Linked DNA regions of Homo sapiens: all the other regions are linked to region 1. The links come from fine-mapping of genetic effects on gene expression. A gene starts in region 1. Each other region holds a variant in brackets. All regions are shown on one strand. Distances are from middle to middle.

Region 1 (8,102 bases):
GCTCCAAGTCCTCCAGAAGGGCCCTTGGAAAGACCTGTGGTCCCAGCATCCTCTTTAGCCCCCCATCTCCCCTCTGTGTTTGTAAACTGTCCTACTGGGTCTTTTAGTGGCTTCCTTCTTCAGGACAAGAAAAATGCCCTTCTTTCCTCTCTCCTTCCCAAACAGCCTGACCTAGGGCTCTGCTGGAAAGGTAAGGCCCGATTCAGCACCCTCCCTGTTTTCTCCCCAGGCTTTACCACCCTGCAGCTGCAACTTTAGCCCTGGGAAACAGAGGGGAAGCTGGTAAGTAGAAGCCCTGTTGGGTGTTAATAGGGATGTAGAGCTCCACCTTCCTAGATAAGAGGAGACAGCAGGAGTCCTGCTAGGTTACCTACCCAGGCGAAGGCCACACAGGTGTGGTACATGGGGGAGGAGGCTGGCACGAAGGTGCGGTAGCGGCAGAGCATCACCAGGCTGGCCAGGCCATTGAGAAACGAGGCCACGGCCGATGCCGGCTCTTGAAAGAACAGGAACCGGGAGAAGGGCCACTGAAAAAGGAGCAGATGAAGGAGGTTTGAAGGGCAGGCAACCCTCAACTGGCCCAGTCCACCTATTCTTGACATGCTGAAGCAACAGGTCCTCAGCTGAGTCCTCAGCTCTGGAGTTTGGCCAAAGCCTCAGGTTCAGTACCTCTTCAGACTAATGAGCCACCCTCCAGTGCCTAGTTAAGAGTTATACCCCCATCCTGGCCAGCAGGCACAGCACTGTAAGCCCTGATCTCTGGGAAGACCAGATGGGTCAGGGTAGATGACTCAGTATGGCCTGGTGGAAACAGCACAGAGTTGCCATCCAGAAGACACAGGTCCCAACCCCTCCTCTACCACTGACCACGGTCCTTTGAGCCTCAGCTTACTCTGTGAAAAACTGGGGTGAATACTTCCTGCCAACCTCAACAGGCCAGAATGAGATAATACTGGATTGAAACGTACCAGCAGGCCAGGCGCGGTGGCTCACGCCTGTAATCCCAGCACTTTGGGAAGCTGAGGCGAGAGGGTCACAAGGTCAGGAGATTGAGACCATCCTGGCTAACATGGTGAAACCCCATCTCTACTTAAAAAAAAAAAAAAAAAAATACAAAAAATTAGCTGGGTGTGGTGGCACACACCTGTAGTCCCAGCTACTTGGGAGGCTCAGGCATGAGAATTGCTTGAACCTGGGAGGTAGAGGTTGCAGTGAGCCAAGATCATGCCACTGCACTCCAGCCTGGGCGACAGAGGGAGACTCCATCTCAAAAAAAAAAACAAAAAACAAAAAACAAAAGAAAGAAAGGTACCAGCAAACTGTGCCTCGCTAGACAAGCTGAAGCATATTACTGTGAATCCAGACCCCTACTGGAGAAGCAACAGGAAACAAGCCACAGTAGGTAAGGGAATTTGTCCCTGCAGTAAGGTGGGCATCTCAACCACTCTAAGAGGCCCAGCACCACTCTCTGGGGAGACTCCAAAGCCTTCCAGATATTGCTACTCCAAATCCAGAGGCAGGACACATGGGTCCTATCCAATTCTATGGAAACCAGCAGATTTTGGGGAGAACAGGTAGCTGCCCCAAACACACACGCATTACCCCATGCCTCAGACTGCTTGGACAGTGTGGTCCAACCAGGGGGTATATTACTCCTACCACGCTACTACCATATGCCTACCCTGACCCTCCAACTCACCTTGCCATGGAACTGAGGCACTTTGTGACCTTCCTGGAGGTAGAGCCCAACGGTGACCCACATACACTCATACTTACAGTCGTCCCGACAGGTCCAGCCTGAAACAGACAAATGTGGCCTGGTGAACTCCCCAGCACAGAGAGGAAAGAGAGAGCATGAATGGGGTCCAAGCGCAAATGTAGGCCAAGAGGGCCTGTAAGTTGGAGAGAACCAGGAGAAATCTCAAAATTCTAGCTTCCCCTTTGAATGAATGAGAGATGATGAGATGTACACATAGGGGAAGGTGTATGTACGTATGTATGCATATTTTAGTGAGCAATTAGAGATATTCGTCTTTTTTTTGTTTGTTTTTTTGAGACAGTTTTGTTTTTGTTGCCCAGGCTGGAGTGCAATGGTGCGATCTCGGTTCACTGCAACCTCCGCCTCCTGGGTTCAAGCGATTCTCCTGCCTCAGGCTCCCGAGTAGCTGGGATTACAGGCATGCACCACCACACCCAACTAATTTTGTATTTTTAGTAGAGATGGGGTTTCTCCATGTTGGTCAGGGTGGTCTTGAACTCCCAACCTCAGGTTATCTGCCTGCCTCTGCCACCTAAAGTGCGGGGATTGCAGGCACGAGCCACCGCACCCGGCATTTTTTTTTTTTTTTTTTTTTTGAGACAGGGTCTCGCTCTTTCATCCAGGCTGGAGTGCAGTGGGGAGAGCATGGCTCACCACAGCCTTGACCTCCTGGGCTCAAACGATCCTCCCACCTCAGCCTCCCAAGTAGCGAGACCACAATGTCTGGCTAATTCTTTTATTTTTTGTAGAGAAGGCATCTTGTCATGTTGCCTAGGCTAGTCTTGAACTCCAGGGCTCAGATGATCTTTCTACCTTGGCAGACATTTCCTCTCCTTTTGCTCAAGTCCATCAAGATGTTGGCATCTGATGAACTCATCTATGGAAACCTGGGTTTATATTTGTCCTTCCTGAATATAGGATTTGCTCTTACTCTCCTGGAAGGAGTTCTTGCTATCTTACTCCCTTCCTATGAAAATGAAGCCCAAATTCTTCAACCTGACTTTTGAGGCTCCAAATTGCCTTTCCAACCGTATTGGTCACTACTCCTGTTCATGTACCCTGCTCCCTGAGTAAATAAAGCTCCTGGATGTGCCCACATCTGCCCAGGGCATCCATTCTCTCTGTTCCCTCTGTCTGGAATGCAAAGTGGTATAATAGTAAAGAGGACAAGCTTGTGGTCAAACAGGCCAGAACTGGAAACTCCACTTTACTACATACTGGCTGTGTGACCTTGGGCAGGGCATTTAATCTCTCTAATCCCCATCTGTAAAACTGGGATTAGAGAAACTATCTCAAAGGGTGTGATAAAAATTACTTGACATATTGTGACACCTGTCACACAGTGAGTGCTCAATACGTTGGTTCTTTGCCCACTATGGTCCAAATCGAATGTACCAGTCCAAAGTCCCTCCTTCAAACAAAACGTTCCAAGATGATCCCTGCCCCCACGTCTTCAAAGCCGGAACTGACACCTTCCTATCCCAAATGCTTCCTAATCAAAGAGTCTTTCAGGGGCTCAAATCATTCTCTGCCTTGCACTTGAAAAGGCTCATGTCCCCGTGGGGACTGTGAGTCCCAATGGGCGGGACCCTGGTCTGATTTCTGTGCCATTCCTAGACATTGTGGCCCGAATGTATTTAATAAATACCCTTTTGACTGAACAAATAAGTAAATGAAAGCTTCTGGGAAAGTAAGAGAGGCTGGTAAGGCTCTCATCACCTTAGGGGCTTCACTCACATTCATAAGAGACCTCGTGGGGAAACTAAGGTTCAGGGATTGCAGAGGCGTATTGGGGGCGCAGGGGGCGGGAGCAAGACAAATGGGCGGGGCTTACCGTGGGGGTGGGGCTTACCTGCTAGACTCATGTAGATTGGCTGGCGGGAGCGGAAGTGATTCAGAGCGCCCCCAGAGCAGTTCTGCTCTTCGCACTGCAGTACGCAGTCGCGGTACACCGGCTCACGGTCGCCCTGGGAGCCGCTCGCCAGCGCCGCTGCCCCAGCTAGCAGGACCAACCGCGCCGCCAGGCCGGCCATCCTTTCTCCCTGGCTCGCCGCCGGGGGAGGAGCTTAGGAGTATGAAGCTTCCACTTCCGGAGTAACCGGAAGTTCCTGTGTTCTTTATTCTACTCTCCGCTGAAGTCCACACAGTTTAAATTAAAGTTCCCGGATTTTTGTGGGCGCCTGCCCCGCCCCTCGTCCCCCTGCTGTGTCCATATATCGAGGCGATAGGGTTAAGGGAAGGCGGACGCCTGATGGGTTAATGAGCAAACTGAAGTGTTTTCCATGATCTTTTTTGAGGTAGGGCTGTTTACTGTCACCACCCCTGTCGGATTTTACTTCCTAAACGTACCTGTAACTATCCACTTCTCTCCATCTCTTCTGGCACCACCCTGGTTAAAGACACCATCATGTGTCGCCAAGACAGCCGCAGTAGCTTCTTAATGGCTCTCCCTGCCTCTACTTTTGCCTCTTCCAACCTGCGCTCCATTTTGAAAAATTAAAATTTGCCCATATCACTTTTTTTTTCTTAAAATTATTTACTGGCTCCCAATTACCTTGGGTAAAATACAGTCTCCACAAACCCTGCCTGATTTGGCCCCTGTCCACTGGTCTCCCTCACTCCCTTGCTCCAGACCCGCTTCAGAGGGCTATGTCCCTCAAGCTTCCTGACTGCCTGGCCTGGTCTGAATCACTCACTCTTCTTTTTTCTTCTAGTCGCAATTGAAGTACCACCTCCCGAGGGTGATTGCTTCCCCATGCGGGGTAGAACCTTTGCTGTCCTGTTCACCACTCTACCTCCAGCACAGAATTTGGCTTATGGTAGGCGCTAACTGCGTTTGTTTGTTCTTCTGTTTAATGAATGAACAGCATACATCAACATAAGAACTTGACAAATCCAGGGCTGTAAAATCATCAGTATGGTTCTGCACTGAGATCGGAGAGAAGTAATATTTCTAGGAAAATTAGGAACCCTGGGAACAGGACGCTTGCTTTAGTATCCTCTCCCTGCTCACCTCCCCTGCACTCCCATCAGCACCGACCCACACCCAATCTCATAGAAGCCTTGTAGCTAAGGATCACCCTTTCTCCTCCCCCACTCTCCTCACCCCTTGTCAACTTTTCTTTTTCGTCCTGGGGGTTGGAATGAGTAAGAAGTAGCCTGGGATTCCATTCACTCACTTAACAAACATTTCTGAGTCCTTAGCTCTAGCACCTTGCTAAGCAAGGCAAAATCTCCAGGAGGCACCATTCACATTGCATTTTCTGTGAATGGTGCTCTGGGGAGCAGCATTCACATTGCCTTTTCTGTGAATGGCAAATTCTTCCAGTTAAATATAACATGAATAGTGTCCCCTGGAGTTGACCACCCAACTGATACTGACTGAGAAGCTGAAATGAACAAAACAACCCCTTAGCCCTCCAGGAGCTGACCGGAAATCCAGTGCTAATACTACTTTGCATCTTACAGATTAGTTCTTTTACAATACTGTTTTTTTTTCTTTTTTCATTTCATTTTGTCCTTTCTGTGACTCTGGGATGAGTCTTTTTATGAGGATCCTCATATAAAGATGGACATTTAGGATTAAAGAGGATGAAATCCTGACAAAATAGGGAGTCTCCCCTTTAGAAAATTCCTAAGTAAGGCTGGGGGTGGTGGCTCACGCCTGTAATCCCAGCACTTTGGGAGGCCGAGGCGGACGGATCACCTGAGGTTAGGAGTTTGAGACCAGCCTGACCAACATGGAGAAACCCCATCTCTACTAAAAATACAAAATTAGTTGGGTGTGGTGGTGCATGCCTGTAATCCCAGCTACTCAGGAGGCTGAGGCAGGAGAATCGCTTGAACCCAGGGAGGCAGAGGTTGTGGTGAGCCAAGATTGCGCCATCGCACTCCAGCCTGGGCAACAAGAGCGAAACTCAAAAAAAAAAAAAAAAAGAAAAAGAAAATTCCAATTTTGAAGGCCTCATCCTATATTATGTCAAACATACTGAAATGCAGTAACGCCCCACATTAAATAAGATTTATAAATAACTATACATATATATAATTCAATCTAATTGCTGTTAATAGTTGACATATTGCTACATTTATATACATTTAGTTAAAAAAAATTTTTTTTCCCAGACAGCCTCTCACTCTTTCACCTAGACTGAAGTGCAGTGGCATGATCACGACTCACTGCAACCTCAACCTCCCAGACTCAAGTGATCCTTCCATCTCAGCCTCCTGAGTAGCTGGGACTGCAGCATGCGCCACTATGCCCTGCTAATTTTTTTAATTTTTTGTAGAGACACGGTCTTGCTATGTTGCCTAGACTGGTCTCCAATTCCTGGGCTCGAGTGATCCTCCCGCCTCAACCTCCCAAAGTGCTGGGATTACGGGCGTGAGCCATGCCACACGGCCATAAAATATTAATTTTCGCAGCTTTCTTATATTTTAGAACTAACAATGGAAATTTGTTCGGGTCTAAAGTATTTCAGAGGTCCTTGAAAACCCATGCCTACATACCTGATGGAAAAAGCAATCCTAGGTTAATGGTGGAAGTGGGAGTAGAGACTTCTGTTCTGTTGACTTCTTGGAAGATGGGGTACTGTCTCTCTGGGACAGCTCTTGAGAATTTCCCTGCCAGCACAGCCCCAGATAACAATCTCTAGATGGCGATTACCTGGCCTCTCTTCCCAACTTTCTAGCCTGGAGCCCCTAGTTCTCCCCTGAGCCTCCTTAGCTTGTCCTTCTTCCTAACTTGTATTTGGCTTCAGATGTGATCCACAGTCTGAAAAGTCACTAATTCATTCCTTCAACTCAGGCTTATTGAGTCCTCCTGTGTATCAGCCATTGTACTCATGGGGGAAAAAAAAGACAAAGCATATGTTAATAGTAGAGTGTGCTGGACAGGCACAGTGGCTCATGCCTGTAATCCCAGCACTTTGGGAGGGCGAGGCAGGTGGATCATCTGAGGTCAGGAGTTCGAGACCAGCCTGACCTAACATGGAGAAACTCCTGAGATCGTGCCATTGCACTCCAGCCTGGGCAACAAGAGCAAAACTCCGTTTCAAAAAAAAAAAAAAAAGTATAGTGTGCTAAAGGCTCAACGGCAAGCTGACCATGTTCTTAGATCAAAATTGGTAGAGAGTCTACAATGTGGGTTCCTTATTCATCAAATGTTTATTAAGTTTACCATGTGCAAGTCTCTGGGAACAGAGTGATGAACAAGGCACTGTACTTTTCATGGTCAGAGGAGGGAAACAGGCCATAAACAAGTGTCAAACAAAAGACTGAAGCCAGGTGCGGTGGCTCACATCTGTAATCCCAGCACTGTGGGAGGCCAAGGCAGGCGGATCATGAGATCAGGAGATCGAGACCATCCTAGCCAACATGGTGAAACCCCATCTCTACTAAAAATACAAAAAAATTAGCTGGGCATGGTGGCACGTGCCTGTAATCCCAGCTACTCCGGAAGCTGAGGCAGGAGAATTGCTTGAACCAGGGAGTTGGAGGTTGCAGTGAGCCTGGATTATGCCACTGCACTCCAGCCTGGTGACAGAGCGAGACTCCATCTACATTAAAAAAAAAAATATATATATATATATATACACACACACACACACACACACACACATACCCTCTAACCCAGGAATTTCACTCCTAGGTATACCTACATAAGCTCCAGTATACCTAAACAAGTGCAAATTTGTTTAAGTACAGTTATTTGTGGTAGCATTAGTCATTGTTTTCAATAGCAAGAAGAAAAAGGAAACAACTAAATGTCCATCAATAGGGAATGAATTATATTAATGGAGGGAGAGCCATACAATGGAAGGCTGAACAGAAATTAATAGGAATGGGGCAGATTTGTAATGTACTAGCATGGTAAAACCTTCATGATAGATATAGATATAGATATAGATATAGATATAGATATATATACATATACATATACATATACATATACATATATATATATATATATATATATCTCTTGTGTCTCAGCCTCCCGAGTAGCTGGGATTACAGGTGTGTGCCACCACATCCGGCTAATTTTTGTATTTTTTAGTAGAGACAGGGCTTCACCATGTTGGTAAGGCTGTCTTGAACTCCCGACCTCAGGTGATCCACCTGTCTCAGCCTCCCAAAGTGCTGGGATTATAGGCATGAGCCATCACACCTGGCCAAATATTTTTGATAAGTATCAAGTGCACAGTGCAGAACAAAATATGTGTGTGTGTATGCATGTGTATGTACACCTATACACTTATATACAGTACCCCATGTGAAGAAAAATAAGGGTACGTGTTATGCGCGTAGTATTATGGTTGTTATTTTTGAGAATATATCTAGAAAG
Region 2 (8,102 bases), 52 kb after region 1:
AATCTATTTTCCACACAAGGTTAGGGAGGTCTAGAGGCCACATTTGCAGAAGCACAGCTTCCTCTCTCCACACCTTCCACACCTGTCCAGGTTCACCCACGTGGCCTCTGCTTCCTCCCTTCTCCTCCAACCCCACTCTCTGTCTCCGCATGCTGCATCTCCTCCTGCCCAGAGCTCTGGCATTGATTTCCTCACTGGGGAAAGTGGCCTCCTTCCCCAATTCCCATCCACCGATTCCAACCCCCTTCCCATGTCAGCCAGCTTCTCCTCTGCTCAGCTGTCACCTCCACTGAGAAGTCTTTCCTGACTCCCTATGTGAGTCATTTTCCCAGCATAGTTGTCTCCTGTCATTTCTTATTTGTGTGATTCTTTGGTTAACATCAATCTTCCTGATTGGCTGTGTGAGGATGGGCGGGGTCTGTTTTTGTTGTTTACGCCTGTATCCCCAGCACAAAACATGGGGCTGGCATATGGTAGGTACTAAACAGATAGTTGAATAAATGAATGAGTGAATTGTCTACTCTGCCTTTGCACAAGCTGCTCCATCACCAAAGAGACCTTGCCTCCTCCCCCACTTCTTTGCTGGGCCCACTCATACCGGTTTTCCTAGGAAAACTCTGGAGAAAATTGAGGCAGGAGCCACTCATTCGTGCCCCTTCCAGGGTGGACCTCTTATCACCCTAAGGATTGTTTGTTTTCCTGTCACCCACATCAAGCTGGGTGGTGGCCGCAGCCTTTGATCTCCACCTCCTAACCCCTCTCCCAAGTACCCTGTGTTTGCCCAGCACTGAATGAGACAGCTAAAGTGATCCCTGAGAGAACTAAAGTGTTCCCTCAGGCCGGGCGTGGTGGCTTATGCCTGTAATCCTAACACTTTGGGAGGCCGAGGTGGGCAGATCACCTGAGGTCAGGAGTTCAAGACCAACTTGGTTAACATGGAGAAACCCCATCTTTACTAAAAATACAAAAATTAGCTGGGTGTGGTGGCAGGCGCCTGTAATCCCAGCTACTCCGGAGGCTGAGGTAGGAGAATTGCTTGAACCTGGGAGGCAGAGTTTGCAGTGCGCCAAGATGGCACCACTACACTCCAGCCTGGGTGACAGAGCGGGACTCTGGCTCAAAAAAAAATAAAATAAAGTGATCCCTCTAAGAGGAATCCCCAGGGGCCCAGGCCAGAGCTTTCTCCAGGTCACCATGGCTCCTCCCACTGTGCCACCCTGCCTAACCCCCTCGATTTTAAAGGAGAAGCCAAGACTCTGGACTTTGCTCAGAAGGTGGGGGGCGGGGGAGGGAGGGCTTACCCTGGGTACCTCTGAGGGGCCAGGGCGCAGCCACCACGGTAAGGGTGACTGCAGATCGAGGGGCAGGCCATGTTGCTGGACACCACCCTGGCTGGCGTCCCTCTCGGCAGGGTGCTCTTTGCCCCATGGGGTGGGATCCAGAGCTGCAGACAGGCCCCCAGGCTTGGCCAATGAACAGACCAGGTTCGGGGAGGGTGTTGGAAAAGAGTGGATGGGGTGGTTCCCCTTACCTTGCAGCCCCCAGGCCCTCCCCCCTCCCTCCCAGGTGGTCGGGACTCTTGATCTTCGCTCGTGGTACTGTCTGTTCGGCTGTCTTCCCCGCCTCTCCCCAGGCACCTGCATCCTCCCTTGGCACCTGCTGCCAGGCTAGGAAGGGCAAAAACAATCCCAGTTGGCGTAGTCAGGGAGTCTCCGCCCTCCTCCCAGGTTTCCTCCTCCCAGGCGCCTCCCCTGGACCCGCCCCCATCTGCCCAAGATAATTTTAGTTTCCTTGGGCCTGGAATCTGGACACACAGGGCTCCCCCCCGCCTCTGACTTCTCTGTCCGAAGTCGGGACACCCTCCTACCACCTGTAGAGAAGCGGGAGTGGATCTGAAATAAAATCCAGGAATCTGGGGGTTCCTAGACGGAGCCAGACTTCGGAACGGGTGTCCTGCTACTCCTGCTGGGGCTCCTCCAGGTAAGGGGACCGAGATCGGTCTCAGACGACAGCCTGCCAGGCAACCCCCAGCCGCACCAGGGCCCCAGGCTGTGCCAGTCTCCGGCTGAACTGGCCGGCGGCCCAGGTGGGAGGATTGGAGCCACCTGGCTCTCCCCCTCCCCCGCTCGGTGATGTCAGGCCAGGGGCGGGGGCTGGAGGGGGACAGGTAGTTAAGGGCCTGGCGTCTCCCTCCCTGAAGACGTGGTCCCAGCCGGGTGTCCTGACGCTCGGGGTTCAGGTAAGAACCCAAGCGGGCATTTATCCTTTGGGGGCAGGCACGGCCGGTCTGGAGGCCGGTAGGGAAAGGCTGGGTCTCCTGATGGGTTGCTTGGCCTCCCACTTTTCTCTTTTCTGTCCATTTCCCACCCTGCCCCCTCCTCCCCACCCGCCCTCTTTTCGTCCCCATCCTGGTTTCCAGCGCTCCTTGTTCCCTCCCTGTACACCTCCCTGCAGGCAGCAGCTGAGAATGGGAAGGAAGACCTGATTCTCTCCTCCGACTTGGCTTTCCCGCTGAAACTAGCCCCTCCCCGCACACCCGGGGAGAGCCGCCCTCACTCTCTGGCTCGCCCAGTTTACCCCAGTTTGGGTTTCCCCAAGTCTCTAAGACAGACGTCTCTGCGGGCTGCGGGGAGATGTGGGGAGGGCCCCCTCCACTTTGGAGGGCAGTGAAGGAGAGGGATCCTCTAAATTGTCGAGGCTTCATCTCTCCAGATTGTATGCCCTTCTCAGCAACACCGCCTCCGGCCCTCCGATGGGAAAGTGGAGGCCGGGTGAGACGGGGTCCCTCCTGGCTTCAGCATGAAATGGGCAGGAAGGCTGGAGGGGTGTATGAGGGGCTCTGCAGTGCGGTGGGGCCTGGGGAGAGTGGGGTGGGGGATAGCAGATGGTTTCTTCTGCTTGATGAGGCTAGGGAGAGACCCAGGTTCCCGGTCTGGGTCTCCCTGGCAGATTGAGGACAGAGAATGAATGCATCTGCCGGCAAGGTGGAACGCCCCCCACCCCGCCCCCCAACTAGCCGCACCGCCCCCCAGGAATGCCCTCTTTTGGTCCGCCGGTCTTGGACTCTGCTCTCCCCTCTCCTGATATCCTACTGTATGCTTGGTGGGGGGACCTCATGGAGGCGGGCAGCCTGTAATGATTAACTGCAGAGACACTCCAGCATTCTTCCCGAATTAAACTTTAAAAGAGCTGCCCCGCCTTCTCCCATTGGGTATTTTTCCTGAGTGAGAGTGGGCGGGGCCTCAGAGTCCTGGGTCCTCCCTTATACTAGGAGTCATCCAGGGGTTTCTCACCTTCTCACCTGGGCCCTGCACCCTAAAAAATTATAAGCCTCTCCCGTGGGGGCGGGGCGTGGAGTACTGGGCGGACGGGGGCTCTCCCGCCACATCCAGGCCCCTGGCCCAGGCCTCAGTCCCGCAAGCCCTTCCCCCTGCTCTGGGAAGCAGAGTTGTTTTCTGTTGGCCCTGAACACCGGGCCCCGCCACCTGCCCTTAGGGCCAGCCAGGTGGGGCGTGATTCAGGAAGTAAACAAGGAGGTTGGGAGGACGGGAACGCGGGTGGGGCTGGA[A/G]CCACTGGGGGAGGAGGCAGCTGGGAAGCCACGGACGGAGTTACCTCGTTGAGGGGACAAACTGATTTTGGGGGTCGGTGTTTCCAACCGAAGCTTTACCGGGGCCTCAGTTTGAAAACTCCAGATCTCTAAGCTGCCAGGCCCACAGCCAGGACCCCTTCCTCCTCCCTGCTCACCCCATTGGTCTTGACGATTCCACCCGCCTCCAGCCTTAGAAGCTTAAGGGCACGGCTGGGGGGCTCTGAAGGCAAACCCCAGCCTTGGACTGGCCCTCTCTGATCTCTGAGGCCAGGCTCTAATGTGATTTGAATCTACTTCTAACCCCTTCCAAGCACTGCCCTCCCGAATTCTCTGCTCCTCTCCCCACCCCACTGTTGGTCTGTGATTTCGAGGCAGGCGTGGCCCCCTGCAGCCTGGAATGAAGTCACTGGGGCTGTTTGGAGACCGGGGCTGTTTGGAGGTTAGACTGGGGTGGGAGTGGGGGATTGTGTTCTGGTATTGAGGTGCTGGTGTCTCTTGCTAGCGGGTGATGGGTGTGTCGTGCCCCTCCTGGCAGGACCCTGAGCCCCCTCCCTGGCCTTTCATCCTGTCTGTCTTCTTGAGTGTTTTCCCTTTCCACTCCTGCTCCTGTGGTACCCCTCTGGCCGGGACACCCAGGAGAATGTGTCAGGAGGAACTTCATCCACACAGGGCAGGGGCTCTGAGCGATGCTTTGGGTGGGGAGGGGCACCGCCGGGATGCTGGCTTCTCTCCAAATGGGCCTCTGAATCCAGGCCGGGCATTGCCTCTCTCCTTCCCAGGCGAGGGACTCCCTGGCGAGGAGGTGGTTTGGGACTGGGGGTGAGAGCAGATCGTAGGTCCCACCTGGCCTGGAGCTAGGCCGAGGGTGGGGAGGAGGAGGTGATGTCAGGAGCCTCAGGCCCACATCCTCCTCCCCCATCCTGTTCCCAGCCCCGTGCCTCCCCCATTCCGCTCTGGCTAGCAGTGGGTTGGGGAGTTGGGGGAAGGGTGGAGGCAGGGCTGTTTTTGTTTCTCCTAAGCCAGGAAGTTGTGTGGATGAGTCAAGGTTGAATGGAGAGCCCTAGGCAGTGTTGTCCCGCCCGCCCTGACTCACCTGTCCCCCAAATCCCCTGATGCCCTCACTGAAGGGTCAGGTGCCTGCTCCCTCCTGAGGGGTCAATCCCAGGTGCCCCAGGTGGCCTCATAGTACTGGCCCAGTGTTTGGAGAACAGGCTGGGGGCTGGGATTGCAGGTTCTCCCAGGTCTCAGCCCGGCCAAAGGGGTCTGCTGGGTTCCTGCGGAGAAGGTGCCAGCCCCACCTCCACCTCTAGTGCTCGTCTTTGCCTGCTGTCCTGTCTTTACTTGTCTTGAGTGTCTGTGCAGCCCCTATAAGTGATAAGACATGGGTGAGATTGGCCTTGCCTGGGGGTACCAGGTGCCCTCAGACAAATGGGTGGATAGGACAGGTGCACAGTAATGGATGATGCGGCCCCCGCACAGTGCTGAGAGAGAGTCATTCAGTCTGAATGTGGAAGGCCAGGAAGGCTTCTCAGAGGAGGTGGCTCTAGCACTGGGGCTTCAGGAAAGAGTTGGGCAGGAGGATGGCCTGGGGAGGGTACGCAAGGTTTGGGGGCTGCTGGGGCCAGGACCCCTACCCCAGGCCCTGCTCTCCCCCTTGCACTGCAGCGGAGCCCGCTCTCCTGCCTTTCTGACTCCCATCCTTCCCCACCTCCTTCTCCCCTCTGCATCACTCATCACTTGGGCAGGCCAAACCTCGCCAAGTATGAACAGGCTCTGGCAACTGGGTCTGGCAACAAAGTGCTGGAAAAACCCGGGGCACAGCCCAGCGCAGTGAGTGCCCCACACGTGGAGGCAAAGGAGTGGGCCTTTGCCCTGACCCTGAGGGCTGAGCCTGAGAGTCTGTGGGTTGTGAAATCTGTTGTGACCACCAGGCTTGTGGTGGGTGGACCCTCAGCTCTTCCTGTGAGCAACTTTGTGCTAAAGAAAGAGCACTGGAGCCGGGCGTGGTGGCTTACGCCTGTAATCCCAGCACTTTGGGAGGCCAAGGCGGGCGGATCAGGAGTTCAAGACCAGCCTGGCCAACATGGTGAAACCCTGTCTCTACTAAAAATACAAAAATTAGACGGGCGTGGTGGTGGGCACCTGTAATCCCAGTTACTCGGGAGGTTAAGGCACGAGAATTACTTGAACCCAGGAGGTGGAGGTTGCAGTGAGTGGAGATGACGCCGCTGCAAAAAAAAAAAAAAAAAAGGAGAAAAAAAACAGAAAGAGCACTGGACTTGGAGTCTAAACACAGGTTCTACTCCCGACTCACCTGTGACTGAGGGCAAGAATGCTTTCTTCTCAGAGACTCGGTGTCCCCTTTTGTAAAATGAGGCTCATTCTGTCCTTCCCCAAGGGCTTCAGGGAAACTCCAGTTAGAGCAGTGAGGTGCTAGGTAAACTCTGAGGGGCACCCTAACCGCCGTGTGAGGTCAGGAGGTCTGAATTCTCTCATCCCCTCTCCCCAGGACAAGGGCACACAACTGGTTCCGTTAAGCCCCTCTCTTGCTCAGACGCCATGGAGCTGGATCTGTCTCCACCTCATCTTAGCAGCTCTCCGGAAGACCTTTGCCCAGCCCCTGGGACCCCTCCTGGGACTCCCCGGCCCCCTGATACCCCTCTGCCTGAGGAGGTAAAGAGGTCCCAGCCTCTCCTCATCCCAACCACCGGCAGGTACGATGGGGCGTGGGGCTTGGGGGAGGTCAGTGCTGGATAATACACAGAGGCTTGCAGGCCACTGCTCCCTTCCCCACACCTCTCTCCCTTTTTCTTCTTGCCACAGGAAACTTCGAGAGGAGGAGAGGCGTGCCACCTCCCTCCCCTCTATCCCCAACCCCTTCCCTGAGCTCTGCAGTCCTCCCTCACAGAGCCCAATTCTCGGGGGCCCCTCCAGTGCAAGGGGGCTGCTCCCCCGCGATGCCAGCCGCCCCCATGTGAGTTGTCCCTCAGAAGGGAAGGGAGGGATGCACGGGTTCTGGGTCTGTGGGAGATACACAGCCGCTTCCATGGAGGCAGGGGATCTTGGTTAGGAGTCCCTGAGGGTCTAGCAGGTGCGGAAAGGGAATGAATCACCCTTTGCCTCCCCTCAAGTCGTGTGCAATTCCTGGGGCGCAGGTAGTAAAGGTGTACAGTGAGGATGGGGCCTGCAGGTCTGTGGAGGTGGCAGCAGGTGCCACAGCTCGCCACGTGTGTGAAATGCTGGTGCAGCGAGCTCACGCCTTGAGCGACGAGACCTGGGGGCTGGTGGAGTGCCACCCCCACCTAGCACTGGGTAAGTCAGGTGCATGGAACTATCCGGGCTGGGAGATGATGCCTTGCATCTTGGGCTAGGCATGTGGCTCATCCAGGAGATCTGGTTGATCTCCAATAACCCCTGCTTTTTGCCCTTGTCCCCAGAGCGGGGTTTGGAGGACCACGAGTCCGTGGTGGAAGTGCAGGCTGCCTGGCCCGTGGGCGGAGATAGCCGCTTCGTCTTCCGGAAAAACTTCGCCAAGTACGAACTGTTCAAGAGCTCCCCAGTGAGTGCATGAGGGCTGTCTGGGCGCTGGGATGCCCTGATCCTCAACCTGGATGCTGGAGCCCTGATCCCTGACACTTGTCTACCCACAGCACTCCCTGTTCCCAGAAAAAATGGTCTCCAGCTGTCTCGATGCACACACTGGTATATCCCATGAAGACCTCATCCAGGTGGGGGGACCCCCCATTTCACTGCAGATTCACGACTCCCCAGCATTGGCCAGTGCTTCTCCACCCTTAAGTCCTGTGCCTCCCCTCTATGTTGTAGAAAGAGCCAAATCACAGTCCTGTGTGACTGGGGACAGTCACTTTCCCTGCCTGAGCATCAGTTTCTTCTATTAAATGGGGGCGAGAAATGCATGTGGAGCATTTCCTTGTAAAAACCTGAGGGTGGGCTGGGCACGGTGGCTCATGCCTATAATCCCAGCACTTTGGGAGGCTGAGGCGGGAGGATTACTTAAGCCTAGAAGTTTGAGAGTTTGAGACCAGCCTGGGCAACATAATGAGACCTCGTCTCTCCAAAAAAAAAAAAAAAAAAAAAAAAAAGGCCAGGAATGGTGGCATGAGCCTGTAGTCCCAGGTGCTTGGGAGGCTGAGGTGGGAGGATCACTTGAGCTCGGGAGGTCGAGGTTGCAGTGAGCTGTGATCGTGCCACCGCACTAGCATGAGACCCTGTCTCAAAAAGAAAAAGAAAAAGAGAAACATCCTGGTGGTAGAGGGGAAGGGAGGAGGTCAGACCTGTCACTCTCCTCTGCTCTCCTCTGGCTCAGAACTTCCTGAATGCTGGCAGCTTTCCTGAGATCCAGGGCTTTCTGCAGCTGCGGGGTTCAGGACGGAAGCTTTGGAAACGCTTTTTCTGCTTCTTGCGCCGATCTGGCCTCTATTACTCCACCAAGGGCACCTCTAAGGTAAGGTCTTGAGGGTACCAGCCCCAGCCCCTCCAGTCCCTGGTCCTT
Region 3 (8,102 bases), 380 kb after region 1:
TGGGGAAGGGAGGTGTTGCTAGGAGGTCGCTGGGCCCCGGGGTTCGCAGGCGGAGATGGCGTCCGAGCCTCCCCCTGGAGGGCCCGCCCGGCCTCTGTCCGGCCAGTCTGCTGCGCATTCCCGGGCCGGGCCCCGTTGCCGGCCGCCGGAGCTCCCCCGCCCGCCGCGCCGCGGTTTGTTTACGGTGCGCCGGAGGCCTGCCCCCCCAGCCCCCACCCCTAGCCTCTGAGGCCCGAGTGGCCTTTGCAAAGCTGCCTCCAGCTGCGGAGGGCAGTATGAGTGCGGTGGCGCGGGTGGGCTTGCACGGGTCCGGGGAGAGGGAAGTTCCCCCGCCTCACCCGCCTCCCGGTTGAGCATGGCTGTCTGGTTGCAACACTGCTAATTGCAAAAACGCGGTTGTTGGGGGGGAATGTGTGTGTGGAAGGGGTGTACTTGGTGGTGCCTAGATGATTAGGAGAGTTGCTGGCTGGGGAGGAGAGGGAGAAATGGACCTGTGTGTGTGTACCCCACCTTGTTTCCCTCCCCTTGCAACGTGTCTCTGGTGCCCCTTCTCCATCTGGGGCCCTCCCTTGTCCAGCGTGAAAGAAAGGCCTGGGGGGATGACAGGGGCAATTGAAAGAACCACCGTTCCAGGGGTGGGGGTGGGGGACACAGAAGGAAAGCCAGTGAGGTGGGAGCCTGCCCCTCAGTGCTGGCTTTGGCTCCAGGAGGGGGAGGGGATGAAGGGGGCTGTTGTCCAAAATGAGGGGGGAAGCAAAAGTGACACGCAGACACAGAGATATGTCCACACAGACAGCCACATGCACATCCAGGGACACCCAGGCAGACTCAAGGACAGGAGCTACTGGACACACCCACATGGGGACAAGGGAAGAGACAGGCTGCTGCTGCACCGTGGAGCTCTGAGGGGTGGGATATACCCATGGGAGACCAAGAGCATGGGGACCGATCCATGCACATACCCACGCACAGGGTCACACGTAGATGCTGTCACACACTGGGGCAAGGAGGAGTTGCTGTCACCCACACATAAAAAGTCACTGTCACATGCATGCATGCACACAGAGCAATTGCACACAGCAGCACAATTACAAAAGACCCTGTCACTCACAGGCACACACGTGCTCGCATGAGCCCAGTCACACAGACATCATTGCTTGCCGTGACAGTCGCTGTCACTCAGTCAGATGCAAACACAGTTACACACCAACACATGTATACACAACTTAGCAACAAGTATTTTCCTGGACTCTTTACTGTGGAGCTCTGAGGTTCTGTAGGCAACAAAACCCTTGCTCCCAAGAATATTAAATTTGGCTGTATGAAAAAGTGTTCCTGCGTAATGGTGTAAAGCATGCATTCCCAATGACATGTTCTTGGTCTCTATCGCTTGAGATACCACCCTACTAGACAGTGAGCTCTTGGAGACCTGGGAGAATCACTTAAAGAGCTCTGGATCCCACGCAGAGCCTAGCACAAGGGCTGCTCTGTAAATACTTGTTAGTTGATTGACTGTGGAACCTGCAGACACAGGTGCACTCATTTGCACATGGTCCCCTGAACTCAGGTGCAGAATGAGTTCACAAGGCCCAGGTCCCCACAGTTGCAGGTCCACACCAACAGTCGTGTCCACACAACCCCAGATACACACAACTGCAGCCTGTGCAGCCGAGCACACACTTAGATGCACACAATCACAAATTTTTCCCCTTCAGCTTCCTCCTCCCCTTTTTCCTCTAGGCTCAGCCACTGTGCGGGAATGGGCTGTTTTTTTTTTCTTTCTTTCTTTTAGAGGGACAGAGAAACAAGAGCAAAGACAGTGGGTTCAGGGGGGTTCCAGAGGGCCGAGTCATGGGCTCAAAGCAGTGTCCAGTGACTTCTAGAAGCTAGGATTCTCTTGACTGTTGGGGAAGGGGAGAGCTGCTCTCCTCCCTACCCTAAAAGCTCAGGGGTGTCTAACTGCCCCTGCTCTGAGTCATTTGCCTGGGTCTTTCCTGGGAACAGTCAGTCACTTCCAGCTGAGTTCCTGCGCCCCACCTTGAGTCTGGCCCTTTTTCCCACCTGTACCCTCCTGTCCAAACTTGGAAGCTTTCCTTAAGAGGCCATCGGCTGGCGAGTGTCTGTGTGAGTGATATGTACTTTTGACTTGGAATTTCTCTCTAACTCTGTCTCTCTGTTGCTCTGTCTTGCAGTGTCTGATTCTCCCTCTCTCTCTCCTTGTTTCTCTGCCAGTCTGTAACTCTCTCTCACCCTGTTGCTACCCCCGATCTACCCCTGTCCTTGTCTCAGAGCTGGGGACTGGCAGCAATGTTCTTCATACTTTTCCAGTTGTTAATACCCAAGCTCCGCCCCTCTGCCCCCCCTGCGCAGCCTCTGGGGTCAGCTTGAGGTTGGGGTGGGGGGCGGGGGGCTCAGCTGGCTGCTCAGGACTTCCTGCACTTCCTTAGTGCCGCAGCTGTGGCCAGCAAGTTTTAGGGGCTGGGAATGGGGGAAGGGGGGGGGGGTCAGCCACTGCCCATGCTGACCCCTCGGGCCTGCATGTCTGGAGACACCAGTTCTGTGGGCACCCTCAGGGTGCAGGCTGCAGCCAGCTAGCAGCTCTTAAACAAGCCATGAAGAGGCTCCCCCCACACTGGCCCAAGCTGGAAAAGAACCGCCCCCATGGGCAGTGGCGGGAGCTGGCAGGACCCTGCTGAGTTGGGTCCACTGCAGGGCTCACAATGGCCTTTCTCCACACCCCTGGCAGCTGAGGCCCACCTCAGAGATGCCCAACAGCTGTGTCCTTTTTGCCCAGCCTCAGGGCCTGGTTCTGAGGGCACAGCTGCCTAGACTAAGTATGTACTAAGCGAGGCCCTCCCACCCGTGAGTGCAGGTTCCAGCCTAGAAGGGGTACCTCTTCTGGAGAGGGAATTTGAGGAGGGGGAACTCAGGCAGGAGACATCGAGCCCGGGGGCACCAAGCACTTCTCGCTATGCTCCCCTCTAGCCTTGGACTATTTGGAGGTGGAGGCACTTGGCAGAGAACCCACAGGGCAGCTACAGAGGGGAAAGACTGAGGCTTGGTCTCAGGGAACACATAGCTGGATGAAAGAACAAGGCATTGGGCCGGGCACAGTGGCTCACACCCGTAATCCTAGCACACTGGGAGGCGGAGGCAGGCAGATCACCTGAGGTCAGGAGTTCAAGACCAGTCTGACCAAGATGGTGAAACCCCATCTCTACTAAAAATACAAAACTTAGCTGGGTGTGGTGGCGGGGTCCTGTAATCCCAGCTACTCAGGAGGCTGAGGCAGGAGAATCGCTTGAACCCAGGAGGTGGAGGTTGCAGTGAGCTGAGATTGTACCACTGCACTACAGACTGGGTGACAGAGCGAGACTCCGTCTCAAAAAAAAAAAAAAAAAAAAA[GAAAAAC/G]AAAAAAGAACAAGGCATTATCTATCAAGCAGGTGATATACCATCACAGCTAAGAACAGAGATGATGGTGATGATCATGACGGCCATGATTGACCTGGACTGCCTAGGTCTGAATCCCAGCTCTGTCACTTGCTGGATGTGTGACTTTGAGCAAGCGATTTAACTTCCCCGTTGCCTCATCTGTAAATTGGGGATGATCATATCTACCTCATTTAGCTTTTTTGAGGAAAAATGTTTTTAAAAGTGCCTAGTTCATAACAAACTGTATATGTGAGCGGTTGTGATGGGTGAAGGAAGCTGTGGGCCTGGGGTCTCCCAGATTTCTTAGAGAAGCTTCGTGGAGAATTGGGTCTCCTAGACATCAGTGAGACTGGGGCCTGGGGCAGTGGGTCTCCAATTTCCAGCCTTCTCACCGTCATGTAATCTTTTCCTCCCAGACAAATTTTTGCAGCCTGGAATGAGTGTATGGGAAAGAGCCCAAGGCAGGCCCCTCTGCCCCACCCTCCTTTGACCCTCGCCCTTCAGCTTACAAGGAGCCCTTGGCCCCTCAGCCTGGGACACACCCCACCAGCTAGGGGCACCTGCATAAATCTTTGGGCATCACTGCATCTCTGTTCAGGGTCTGAGCTCTGGGGGTGGGAGAGAGAGAACAAGGAAAGCCGTCCCCTCTCTTATGTGTGGGCTCAAAGAGGAGGCAGTGCCCTTCCTCCCTCCTGGGAGCCCAGCATTGGTCAACCAGGACCCAGCTCTGGCTGATAGGCACCAGATTCCCCTGCCCTCCATGGAGTGGTACTTAGTGTGAAAGGTGGTGGCAGAGAGAAACTGAAGCACTGAGTAATGACCAGTGTGGTGGGCACAGCACTTTGAGATCCAGCATCTGTCCTGGGTTGCCTCTTTGCCTTTGTGAGTCTGGTGATCAGGATCCCCTCTCCAAACCCCTTTTATTTAGCCCTGCCCCTCAAGGTGAAGGAAGGACAATGGGAGGATACCCTGTAGGGGTGACGGGAAGCCTTTGGAGTGGGAACCAATCTCAACTCTAGTTCTCGGCTGGGCACAGTGGCTCATGCCTGTAATCTCAATATTTTGGGAGGCCAAGGCGGGAGGATCACTTGAGGCCAGTAGTTCATGATCAGCCTGGTCAACATAGTGAGACCCCATCTCTAAAAACAACTTTAAAAAGTTAGCCAGGTGTGGTGGCGCATGCCTGTGTTACCAGCTACTTGGGAGGCTGAGGCCGGAGGATCGCTTAAGCCTGGAAGGTCGAGGCTGCGGTGAGCTGTGATTGTGCCACTGCACTCTAGCCTGAACAACAGAGTGAGACCCCCCACACACACATCCTCTCAAAACAGACAGAAAACAAAACAAAAAACCCAACTCTAGTTCTCATGGCTGCAAAGGTGTCTAGGGGACTTTGGAGAACTGTTGTGTCTCTTGGGGAGGGAGGCAAGCATGACCGTGGTGGGAAGATCACTGGCTGGGAGTTGGGAGGCCTGGCTGTTGACATTCACTAGTCGTATGACTTTGGGCCTGGGTTTTCATTATCTAGAGACAATGGTTCCTGTCTCACTCAGGTTGAGGGCAAATAACACAAGGTGGGATGACCCCTGTGTTCAATCCATGTTGCATCCTGGCATGGTGAGCAATGCCTGTGGATTCTCCTTTTTTCCCAGGGCCTGGCACATGCCAGGGTGGGGCATACACATGCTGCCTGGAACCAGAGACAGTTCTCAGTCTCTCACTGAAGTATCTGGGGCTGGTGTGTGGTGGGGGCACATGTGGTTCCACCTTGGTGTCACTTGGCAGGCCAAAGCTGGGGTCATAGGGACCTCCCTCCGGTATGCCATTGCGTGAGGTGGTCCAGAGGGAGGGTCAGAAGTTTGCTGGGTAGACAAGGGAAGCAAGATGGGTGTTACTGGTGCCCAGGAAATACTATCCTTGCTTCGCTGTTTTGGGGGTGGGCATTAAAGGTTGATACCAAAGCCTCAGCCATGCCCCTCAGCAGTGGCCAAGAGCAGAATGATTGGACCAAGCCCCTGGCCCACCTCCTCCTCCTCCTCTTTTCCTCTTCTAAAGAAGAGATCGGCTCTTGGCTCCCAGAGCCCCAGCTGCCTGTTTCTTTTTCTCTTTTACCAGGCATGGGGGTGGGGAAACAGGGGAACCGAGGCTTTGGTGTCTTTCGGCATTTTTGTACACATCAGTGAGTGGGTGTGTTGTGCACGCATCCATGTGAGAGTGTTTTTGTGCATGTGTGGGCTGGGGAGGGCTCTGAATATCTCCTGGAACGGTACCCAGAGCCCTGTGGCTCTGCGCATGCGGGGTGAGTGTGTGTGTCTGCACGTGTCCGTGTGTGTGCCGGAGACTCAGCTGCATTCACGCGCGCGCTCTCTCCCTCCCTCTCTCCCTCCCTCTCTCTCTCCCTCCCTCCCTTCCTCTTCCCTCTCCCTCTCTCTCTCCCCCTCCCCCTCTCTGTCTCTCCCTCCTTCTCTCCCTCCCTCTCTCTCTCTCACACACACACTCTCAATCTTTCTCTCTTCCCTCCCCCTTCCTCCCTCCTTCCTATTCCCTCCCTCCTCCCTTTCTGTCCCTGTCTCTCTGTCTCTGTCTCTGTCTCTCTCTCTCTGCCTCTGCCAGTTCTGCTTGGTTAGGGGCTAGCTCCAGCCTCTGGGGTGCCTGGGAGAACATCCCTCCCTTTCTTTCCCCCTCCACCATTCCCTCCCCTCCTAGGCCATGCTCTTCAGGGCTTGCAGGCAACTTCTTCTACTGCCTTAGATGAGGGAGTGAGGAGGGAGGACCCCAAGCCTTGTGCCCATGGTGCCATCTGCAGCAAGTGCCTTGGCCCCGTGACATTCATGCCTCCAGCATTCAGCTGCCCCAGCTCCCAGCTCCAATTACCCGCTGGCTGCTGGGGGAGGGTGGGGAGAATGTGCCGTGCCCAGCTTGGGGGTGCTCCTGCTTCTGCTTTCTTGGCTACTTGGATCTCCTGCCTCCATTCCTGAGGGGAATTGGGCAGGGGGGGCGTGAAGTTCTGTGGGCTGATAAGGAGGGGCTGAGTTCTCCAGCATGGGTGTGGGCATGACCACCCACCAGTGGTCATGGGGGATGGATGTGACCTGGGAGGAGACCTCCAGACCTGGGCACCCACCTTGATGCCTGGCTGGAGCTGGCCCGGGCAGGAGGAGGGAGAGGAGAGCAGCAGGTGGGTGAGGCTATGGGGGAGCCGAGTGGGAAGCAGTCTTTGATGTTAATACTGGGCATCTGGCCCAAGTCAAGGCTGCTGTTTATGTCTTTCTGTCTCTGACCTGCAGGGGGGGTTTCCTGTTATATTCTTTTGGGGCGGGGTGGGGAGGATCCTTTGTTTAAGTAACCAATCTCCCCCTTATGAGGATCCCCACCCCATCTCCCATTCTCTAGCCTCTAAGGTCCCACAGTGGCTAGGTGATGAGTCACTGCCCCCCAGCTCCAGAACCTGTCTCCTGGGGGCCCAGTGAGAGCTCACCAAGGGGTGCCGCCTCCCCTCCTCCCGTCTCCCCCATGCCTGCCAGGCTGGGGCCCTGAGTCTGTGTGTACTCCTCTGCCACATCACACCTGCCAAATAGTACCTTCCTTCCCGCCTTCACTCCTCCTCTCCTTCCTGGCACTAGGATAACAGAGAGTTGGGTGGGGCAGCCCTGCTCAATCCATACCTGAGAATAGAACAGGGGGTATGGGAAAGGACAGGGAGTCCCGGTCCTAGAGAGGCCTCTGCCCCTCAGCATGGGGGCACATGTCGCTGCTGCAGCACTGCCACCACCACAGACTCCCAGGGGCCCTTGGTGTGGGTGGCTGCCTGTGGTGCCCGTGTTGGCATGGGGGGCAGTGCTGCCCATAGACGCCTGTGCCCATGCATGCCCATTTATGTGTCTGGGCCACGGTGGCCGCCCCGGCCCCTCAGCATCGCCCTTCCTGGCTCCCATGGTGGGAGGCTGGGTGATCAGGAGTGGGTGGTGGGGGAGGGATCTCCCCCCACCCTAGCAGCAGGCAGAGGGGAAGGGGAGAGGGAGGTGTGAACCTACCCACAGAACTATTAATAGCCCACATGCCAGGCCACCAAGAACCAGCTGTCACCGTGGAAACCATTCCTACGCCCCCCTCCCCCCAGCCTGCATGGGGTGGGACTTAGACAGGGTACGAAGCCCCCCACCCATCTTTCTTTGTTACCTTTCTCTCTTTGTCTCCCCTCCTTCATGTGTCTCTCCTCCCTTTATCTGTCCTCCTTTCTACCTCACCCCTTCTCCCCATCCCCCATCTCTGGCTCCCCTTTCTTCCTCTCCCTCTACTGCCTTGTCACCCCTAGCTCTACCCCAGCCCTGTCCCATTTCTTTGTTCTTCCCCCTCCTCCCTTCTTCCCTCTTTCCCCCACCAGCCTTTTTACCCCTCCTCCCATCTTTCCACCCTTTTCTCAGCCGCCCCGCATGTACGTGTCCCTGTGGCTGGCAAGGAGGGCTGGGCTTTCTTCAGAGCACTAAGGACAAAGTTCAGGGGCCCCAGAAAGGTGGGGCCAAAGCCCAGAGCAGATACGCAGGAGGGTTAATGCGGGTAGTATTGGGGGTTAGATCCTGGGGACAGAAACTCCCCTCTGGCAGCCCCAGGAGTCCTTTGGGGGTGTCCTCAGATATACAGGACTGCAGAGTGGGACGGCTCGGCAGTGGGAA
Region 4 (8,102 bases), 710 kb before region 1:
TCTGGTGCTGTGTGATAAGATTATATCTTCATCTGTAAATTGCAGAGTAGGAAGAGGGCTAGCCTAAATTATTTAAAAACAGCTGGTTACCTGTAACATTCTATAAAAACTCCAGGGAGGCTGGGCGCGGTGGCTCATGCCTGTAATCCCAGCACTTTGGGAGGCCAAGGCGGGTGGATCACTTGAAGTCAGGAGTTTGAGACCAGCCTGGCCAACGTGATGAAACGCTGTCTGTACTGAAAATACAAAAATTAGCCAGGTGTACTGGTGCGCATCTCTAGTCCCTGCTACTTGGGAGGCTGAGGCAGGAGAATTGCTTGAACCTGGGAGGTGGAGGTTGCAGTGAGCCAACATTGCACCACTGCACTCTAGCCTGGGCAACAGCGTGAGACTCTGTCTCAAAAAAACCCCCAAAAACAAACAAAAAAAAACTCCAGGGAAGGAGATTCCACAGATTCCTTTGACTGAAACAATATTTTTTCGGTGGGGAGGGGATGGAATATTGCTCTGTCGCCCAGGCTGGAGTGCAGTGGTACAATCTCGTCCCACTGCAACCTCCACCTCTGGGTTTCAAGAGATTCTCCTGCTTCAGCCTCCCAAGTAGCTGGGATTACAGTTATGCGCCACCAAGCCCAGCTGCTAATTTTTGTATTTTTAGTAAAGATGGGGTTTCATCATGTAGGTCAGGCTGATTTGGAACTCCTGAGCTCAAATGATCCACCTGCGTTGGCCTCCCAAAGTGCTGGGATTACAGGCATGAGCCACAATGCCCGGCCTAGATTTTTTCATAAAATTATTAATTTAGGCTGGGCATGGTGGCTTATGCCTATAACCCTAGCACTTTGGGAGGCTGAGGTGGGATTATTGCCAGGAGTTCAAGACCAGCCTGGGTAACATGGCAAGACTCTGTTTCTACAAAATTAAAAAACAAACAAACAAACAAACAAACAATAATAATCTGGGCATGGTGGCTCATGCCTGTAGTCCCAGCTACTTGGGAGGCTGAGGCAGAAGGACCACTTGAGTCCAAGAGTTTGAGGTTGCAGTTAGCTGTGATTGAGCCACTGCACTCCAGCCTGGGCATCAGAGTGAGACCCTGTCTCTCTCTTAAAAAAAAAAAAAGAAAGAAAGAAAGCAAATTACTTTGAAATTCCCACAAGAAATCAGTGTTCACTGCAGAAAAATATAAAAATTACACACAAGTCTCTCTATTCTCCCCATATCAATCCAATATTTCTACCAGGAGGTAACTGCTGATAACACTTTAGTATATTTCCTTCCTAAAGGACTCTTTCCTGGCCAAGAAATATACATACATATCATCATTTTTCATTTTTACTAGCTACATAGCATTTCACCATAAAGATATATCATACAAATTTGTTTAATTGGTTCTGCATCATTATTAGATTGTTTCCAATTTTTGCCTTTTTTTTTTTTTTTTGAGACCAAGTGTCACTCTATTGCCTGGGCTGGAGTGCAGTGGCACGATCTTGGCTCACTGCAAACTCCGCATCCCGGGTTCAAGCGATTCTTCTGCCTCAGCTTCCTGAGTAGCTGGGATTATAGGCGCATGCCACTGTGACTGGCTAATTTTTGTATTTTTAGTAGAGACGAGGTTTCACCATGTTGTCCAGGCTGGTCTCGAACTCCTGACCTCAAGTGATACGCCTGCCTGGGCCTCCCAAAGTGCTGGGATTACAGGCGTGAGCAACCATCTAATTTTTTTCTTTTTAAACAATGCTGCAATAATCATTTTGTATACTCTTTTAGGATAAACTTTCAAAAGTTAATTTAAAAAAAAATTTTTTTCCCCAAAGGATTCAGGAATAAGAAATGCTCTTGGTACTATTCTTGCTACTCTGCATTTATAAAATTACCTTTCGAAATGTATAGCCTTCGAAGAACTGAGAGATCATCCCAATGGCTCTTAATTATCATCATTGTCATCATCATCATCATCCTATTTCTGGTTTTAAGAAAAAAAAAATATATGTATATATATTTTTTGAAATGGAGCCTTGCTCTGTCGCCCAGGCATGATCTGGGCTCACTGCAACCCCTGCCTTCTGGGTTCCAGCAATTCTCTGGCCTCACCCTCCGAGTAGCTGGGACTACAGGTACATGCCACCATGCCCTGCTAAATGCCTCCTGAGTAGCTGTGACTACAGGAACATGCTACCATGCCCGGTTTCACCATGTTGGCCAGGCTGGTCTCGAACTCCTGACCTCAGGTGATCTACCTGCCTCGGCTTCCCAAAGTGCTGGGATTACAGGTGTAAGCCACCGTGCCCGGCCAGGATTCAATTTTTTTTTGAGACAGAGTCTCGCTCTTTTGCCCAGGCCGGACTGCAGTGGCGCTATCTCAGGTCACTGCAAGCCCCGCCTCCCGGGTTCACGCCATTCTCCTGCCTCAGCCTCCCGAGTAGCTGGGACTACAGGCGCCTGCCACCGCGCCCGGCTAATTTTTTGTATTGTTAGTAGAGACGGGGTTTCACCATGTTAGCCAGGATGGTCTCGATCTCCTGACCTCGTGATCCGCCTGCCTCGGCCTCCCAAAGTGCTGGGATTACAGGCGTGAGCCACTGCGCCCGGCCCAGGATTCAATTTTTATGAGGAAGTTAGAGTAGTCAAAATCATAGACACAGAAAGTAGAATGGTGATTGCCTCGGCCTGGAGGGAGAGGGCAGTGGAGAGTTACTTTTTTTTTTTTTTTTTGAGATGAAGTCTCACTCTATTGCCCAGGCTGGAGTGCAGTGGTGCAATCTCAAGCACACTGCAACCTCCGCCTCCTGGGTTCAAGTGATTCTCCTGCTTCAGCCTCCTGAGTAGCTGGAATTACAGGTGCCTGACACCACGCCCAGCTAATTTTATATTTTTAGTAGAGACGGGCTTTTACCATGTTGGCCACGCTGGTCTCAAACTCCTGACTTCAGGTGATCCACCCATCTCAGCCTCCCAAAGTGTTGGAATTATAGGCGTGAGCCACTGTGCCCGTCCAGAGTTACTGTTTAATGGGTACAGAATTTCAGTTTCTGGAGACAGGATGTGGTGATGGTTGCACAACATTATGAATGTATTTAATACCACTGAACTGTACATGTGGAAATAGTTAAGGTGGTAAATTTTACATGTATTTTACCACAATTAAAAATGCATTTAAGGCCGGGTGTGATGGCTCACATCTGTAATCCCAGCACTTTGGGAGGCTGAAGTGGGCAGATTACATGAGGTCAGGAGTTCGAGACCAGCCTGACCAACATGGTGAAACCCCATTCCTACTAAAAAAAAAAAAAAAAAAAAAAAAATTAGCCAGGCATGGTGGCGCACGCCTGTAATCCCAGCTACTCGGGAGGCTGAGGCAGGAGAATTGCTTGAACCTGGGAGGTGGAGGCTTCAGTGAGCTGAGATCGCGCCACTGCACTCCAGCCTCAAAAAAAAAAAAAAAAAAAGCATTTTAAAAAAGAGATTATATCTGTTAACTAGGATAAAAATTAAATAAAAAATAAATAAATAAAAAAGAGAGTACATATAAAAATGCAGTTTTGGCTGGTGCAGTGGCTCACACCTGTAACCCTAGCACTTTGGGAGGATGAGGCAGGTGGATCACTTGAGTCCAGGAGTTTGAGACCAGCTTGGGCAATGTGGTGAGACCCCTGTCTCTACAAAAGATTAAAAAATATTAGTCGGTCCTGGTGGTGCACGCCTGTAATCCCAGCTACTCGGGAGGCTGAGACAGGAGAATCGCTTGAACCCAGGAGGTGGAGATTGCGGTGAGCTGAGATGGCACCATTGCACTCTAGCCTGGGCAACAAGAGCAAAACTCCATCTCCAAAAAAAAATTACCACGTGCCTGTAGTCCCAGCTATTCAGGAGGTTGATGTGAGAGAATGGCTTGAGGCCAGGAGGTGGAGGCTGCAGTGAGCTTAGATTGCTCCACGGCACTCTCCAGCCTGGGTGACAGAGTGAGAACCTGTCTCAAAAAAAAAAAAAAAAAAAGTCTGGTCTCATTGGCTCATGCCTGTAGTCCCAGCACTTTGGGAGGCTGAGGAGGGAAGATCTCTTGAGCCCAGGAGTTTGAGACCACCCTGGGCAATGTAGAGAGACTCTGTCTCAATTAAAAAAAAATATATATATATACATATATATGTGTATATATATACATATATGTGTGTATATATATGTGTATATATATATACATATATGTGTGTATATATATACATATATGTGTGTATATATGTGTATATATATACATATATGTGTGTATATATATGTGTATATATATACATATATGTGTGTATATATATGTGTATATATATACATATATGTGTGTATATATATGTGTATATATGTGTGTGTATATATATGTGTGTGTGTGTGTGTGTGTATATATATATATATATACACACACACACACA[C/T]ACACACATATATATATTTGAAAAAAAAATCATCTCCACAAAGGATACAAAAATTTAGCCAGGCATGATGGCATGTGCCTGTGGTCCCAGCTATTGGGGAGGCTGAGGTGGGAGGATTACTTAAGTCCAGGAAGCAGAGGTTGCAGTGAGCCATGATCATGTCACTGCACTCTAGCCTGGGTGACAGAGTGAGACCCTGTCTCAAAAACAAACAAAAAAAATGCAGTTTTTAGACAAATACAATTTAAAATATTTGGAGATGTGATTGTAAATAGGTCTAAATAGGCTCAAAGTCCACTAAACGTGGTTGTTAAAATTTATTAGATTCATAAATAGAATATTAAGATTTTTAACCTGAATTTGGAAGCATAAGGGAAAACTTGGATTTTAATGTGTAAGTCTAATAAACCAAATATTAAAAGGAAAAAGAATATGTTGCTTAAAATTATCATAGGCAAGTGACAGAAAATCCCAGATTACAGTACTTTAAACAAGATAGAAGCTTATTTTTCTCACATAAAGTCCTCGGATAAGCAGTCAGGAGTGGTGTGACAGCTCCACAATCATCTGAAACCCAGGCTCCTTCTATCTTGTTGAGCCGCATCCTCAACCTGTGGCTTCCACCTCATGGCCCAAGGTGGCTGCTTAAGCTCAAGCCATCATGTGCACATCTCAGCCGGCAGGAAGTGGGGAAGAAGGGACCCCTACACACATATACTTCAAAGACCAGAACTTAGTCACATGGTCACTACCAATGGGAAAATATTTTGGAAGGCCCTGTGCCCAGCTAAAAAATAGCGGATTCTACTATTATATAGGAAGACAGGAGCAGGGCACAGAGGCTCACACCTGTAATCCAGCACTTTGGGAGGCCAAGGCAGGTGGATCATTTGAAGTCAGGAGTTTGAGACCAGCCTGGCCAACATGGTGAAACCCCGTCTCTACTAAAAATACAAAAATTAGCTGGCCATGGTGGTGAGCACCCATAATCCCAGCTACTTGGGAGGCTGAGGCAGAATTGCGTGAGCCTGGGAGGTGGAGGTTGCAGTGCGCAGAGATTGTGCCATCGTACTCCAGACTGGGCAACAGAGTGAGACTGTGTGCCAAACAAAAAAAAAAAAAAGAAGGGAGGAGCAGATATCAGGGTATGACAGCAGTCCCTGTAAAAGGTAAGCACATTTTTCATTTTTCATACATTTTACCTTCTGTTTCCCATTCCTTAATCAATAGCCTTTTAATGTCTACATTAATCTAACAACAACCTAAACCAATTTCCTGTTGTTCTTGATAGAGAAGAAACATAATTGACTTATGTCTTTTATATAATTGAAAACAATTAAATCTACTTCTAACTTCCCTTCTTTAGACAAAGTAGTTTCCTTTCTAGCTTGACTTGCTTCAAGTTTCCAAACCTTATTCCATCCTGAGATATTTCTCATCTTTTATTGATGTTGCTTTACTTTGGTCCCTAAGTTTGTTATCTCTTTTTCCTACAAAATTATACTTGTTTAAATTGAATTGAATTGAAATATAGTGACTTCATCCTATACTTTCGTTTATTTACTTATTTAAATACTAAGAGTAAAGCTGAACAATTGATGGGTTTTTAACTTCCCTTTTGTCCTCCTTGGTTTTTTTTGTTTTTTTTTTTTTTGAGACGGAGGATGGAGTCTCACTCTGTTGCCCAGGCTGGAGTGCAGTGGCACGATCTTGGCTCACTGCAAACTCAGCCTCCCAGGTTCACGCCATTCTCCTGCCTCAGCCTCCCGAGTAGCTGGGACTACAGGCGCCCGCCACCACGCCCAGCTAATTTTTTGTATTTTTAGTAGAGATGGGGTTTCACCATGTTAGCCAGGATGGTCTCGGTCTTCTGGCCTCGTGATCCGCCTGCCTTGGCCTCCCAAAGTCCTGGGATTACAGGCGTGAGCCACTGCAGCCGGCCTGTCCTCCTTGTTTTTATTAAAAAGACGGATTTTTTTTTCTTTCTTTTTTTTTTTTTGAGACGGAGTTTCACTCTGCCAGCCAGGTTGGAGTGCAATGGCACGATCTCGGCTCACTGCAACCTCCACCTCCCGGGTTCAAGGATTCTCCTTTCTCAGCCTCCTGAGTAGCTGGGACTACAGGTGTGCGCCACCATGCCCAGCTAATTTTTGTATTTTTAGTACAGACAGGGTTTCACCATGTTGGCCAGGCTGGTCTCGAACTCCAGACCTCAAGTGATCCACCTGCCTCACCCTCCCAAAGTGCTGGGATTACAGGCATGAGCCACCACACCCAGCAGAATATTTTCTTTTTACTCGTTATTTTTAAAGACTAGTCAGGTGAATCATAAAAGTTGCTAGCAAACATAATAAGGCATATTCAAGTGATTTGCATGGGGTAGTTAGAAAAAATGTACTGCTGGGATTACAGGCATGAGCCACAGTGCCCAGCAGTATATTTGGGAGGCGGGCAGATCACTTGAGTCCAGGAGTTCAGAGACCAGCCTGGGCAACATGGTGAAACTCCATCTCTACAAAAATTAGCTAGGTGTGGTGGTGCGCACCTATAGTCCCAGCTACTTGGGTGGCTGAGGCTGGAGGATTGTTTGAGCTTGGGGGTCAAGGCTGCAGTGAGCTATGATCACAACACCGTGCAGAGCAAGACCCTGTTTCAAAAAAAAAAAAAAAAAAGAACAAGAAAAGAAAAGAAAAAAATATATACTAACCAAAAATAAAAGAATGTACAAACTAAGGCTATGTGGCACTTGGGGCCGTCTCACATGAGAATGTGACATGGTGACAAGATTTCATCCAAAAACATGCTTTGGCAGAGGAATGGTTTTTAGGGTTGGAAAAAAATTCCTCATTTTTCAGACAAGGGCACCAAGGCCCAAGGAGGTAAAAGCCTTTCCCAAGGTTTTCCACCCCAGTATCCTGGCATGAAGCCAGTTTGTGTAATTACATCTGGATCATGTCAAATTTTGTCTGGGAAAGTGCTATCTTAAAAAGTCAACTATAAAATCATATGTGCTGTATTATCCTATTTTATGAGGGAAATGTACATATAAGTATATAAGAGACTGGAAAGGATGGTGACACTATTAATATGTCAGCAGTAGTTATTTTTGCACTGCAAGATTAAGGGAGGTTCAAGTTCTTTTTTCTTTTATGCATTTCTGGGTTTTCTAAGCTATCTCTATCCCAGCCTATGTTATTTGTGTCGTTAGAAAAAATATTTAAAATATGCACTGTTGTATATTATTTTACCACAAATGGAAGAGATAGAGAAGGGTTGGAAAGTAGTTTTGGATATTTTTAAGTGGGTGTCATTATAAACTGAAAGACGGCAATAAATAAGTGTATTCAGATATCTAAGCCAGTTAATAGTTTTGTCTGGGAAATTAAGAGACAGAGGGACAAATAGCACAGCCGTGAGTAAGCATTACCTCATTTTCCCAAAATCTTTTCCTGACTTCTTTCAAAAGAAGTGCACTGCCCCATGTTAGTTTTTGTTTTGTTTTGTATTTTTTTGAGACAGAGTCTTGCTCTGTCACCCAGGCTGGAGTGCGGTGGCGCGATCTCGGCTCACTGCAACCTCTGCCTCCTGGGTTCAAGCAATTCTCCTGCCTCAGCCTTCTGAGTAGCTGGGATTATAGGCGACCGCCACCATCACGCTCGGCTAATTTTTGTATTTTTAGTAGAG

What was found.
Region 2: its variant is fine-mapped to the expression of PGAP3 in whole blood (TOPMed, PIP above 0.99).
Region 3: its variant is fine-mapped to the expression of PGAP3 in whole blood (INTERVAL, PIP above 0.99).
Region 4: its variant is fine-mapped to the expression of PGAP3 in whole blood (INTERVAL, PIP 0.92).

What each region holds. Positions count from the first base shown.
Region 1 is chr17:39,684,223-39,692,324 of GRCh38, forward strand. PGAP3 (post-GPI attachment to proteins phospholipase 3) reads right to left here and starts at 3,835. Exons shown (of 8, transcript NM_033419.5): 1 at 3,612-3,835; 2 at 1,700-1,797; 3 at 375-527. The coding sequence starts at 3,792. It also overlaps a transcript of ERBB2 not described here. RefSeq lists enhancers at 3,854-3,963, 4,674-5,634 and a silencer at 4,914-5,208.
Region 2 is chr17:39,736,154-39,744,255 of GRCh38, forward strand. It overlaps GRB7 (growth factor receptor bound protein 7), which reads left to right and starts at 1,785. Exons shown (of 15, transcript NM_005310.5): 1 at 1,785-1,980; 2 at 6,099-6,303; 3 at 6,413-6,563; 4 at 6,745-6,901; 5 at 7,027-7,148; 6 at 7,240-7,317; 7 at 7,917-8,054. The coding sequence starts at 6,149. RefSeq lists enhancers at 4,045-4,642, 5,241-5,838. The variant A/G (reference allele first, on the strand shown) is at 3,569.
Region 3 is chr17:40,063,280-40,071,381 of GRCh38, forward strand. The region is part of intron 1 of THRA (thyroid hormone receptor alpha); the gene reads left to right. Among named protein-coding and RNA genes, the nearest start is that of THRA, 4.4 kb to the left of the region's middle. RefSeq lists a silencer at 89-188 and an enhancer at 7,619-8,102. The variant GAAAAAC/G (reference allele first, on the strand shown) is at 3,406.
Region 4 is chr17:38,973,303-38,981,404 of GRCh38, forward strand. No RefSeq gene overlaps it. Among named protein-coding and RNA genes, the nearest start is that of FBXO47, 10 kb to the left of the region's middle. The variant C/T (reference allele first, on the strand shown) is at 4,419.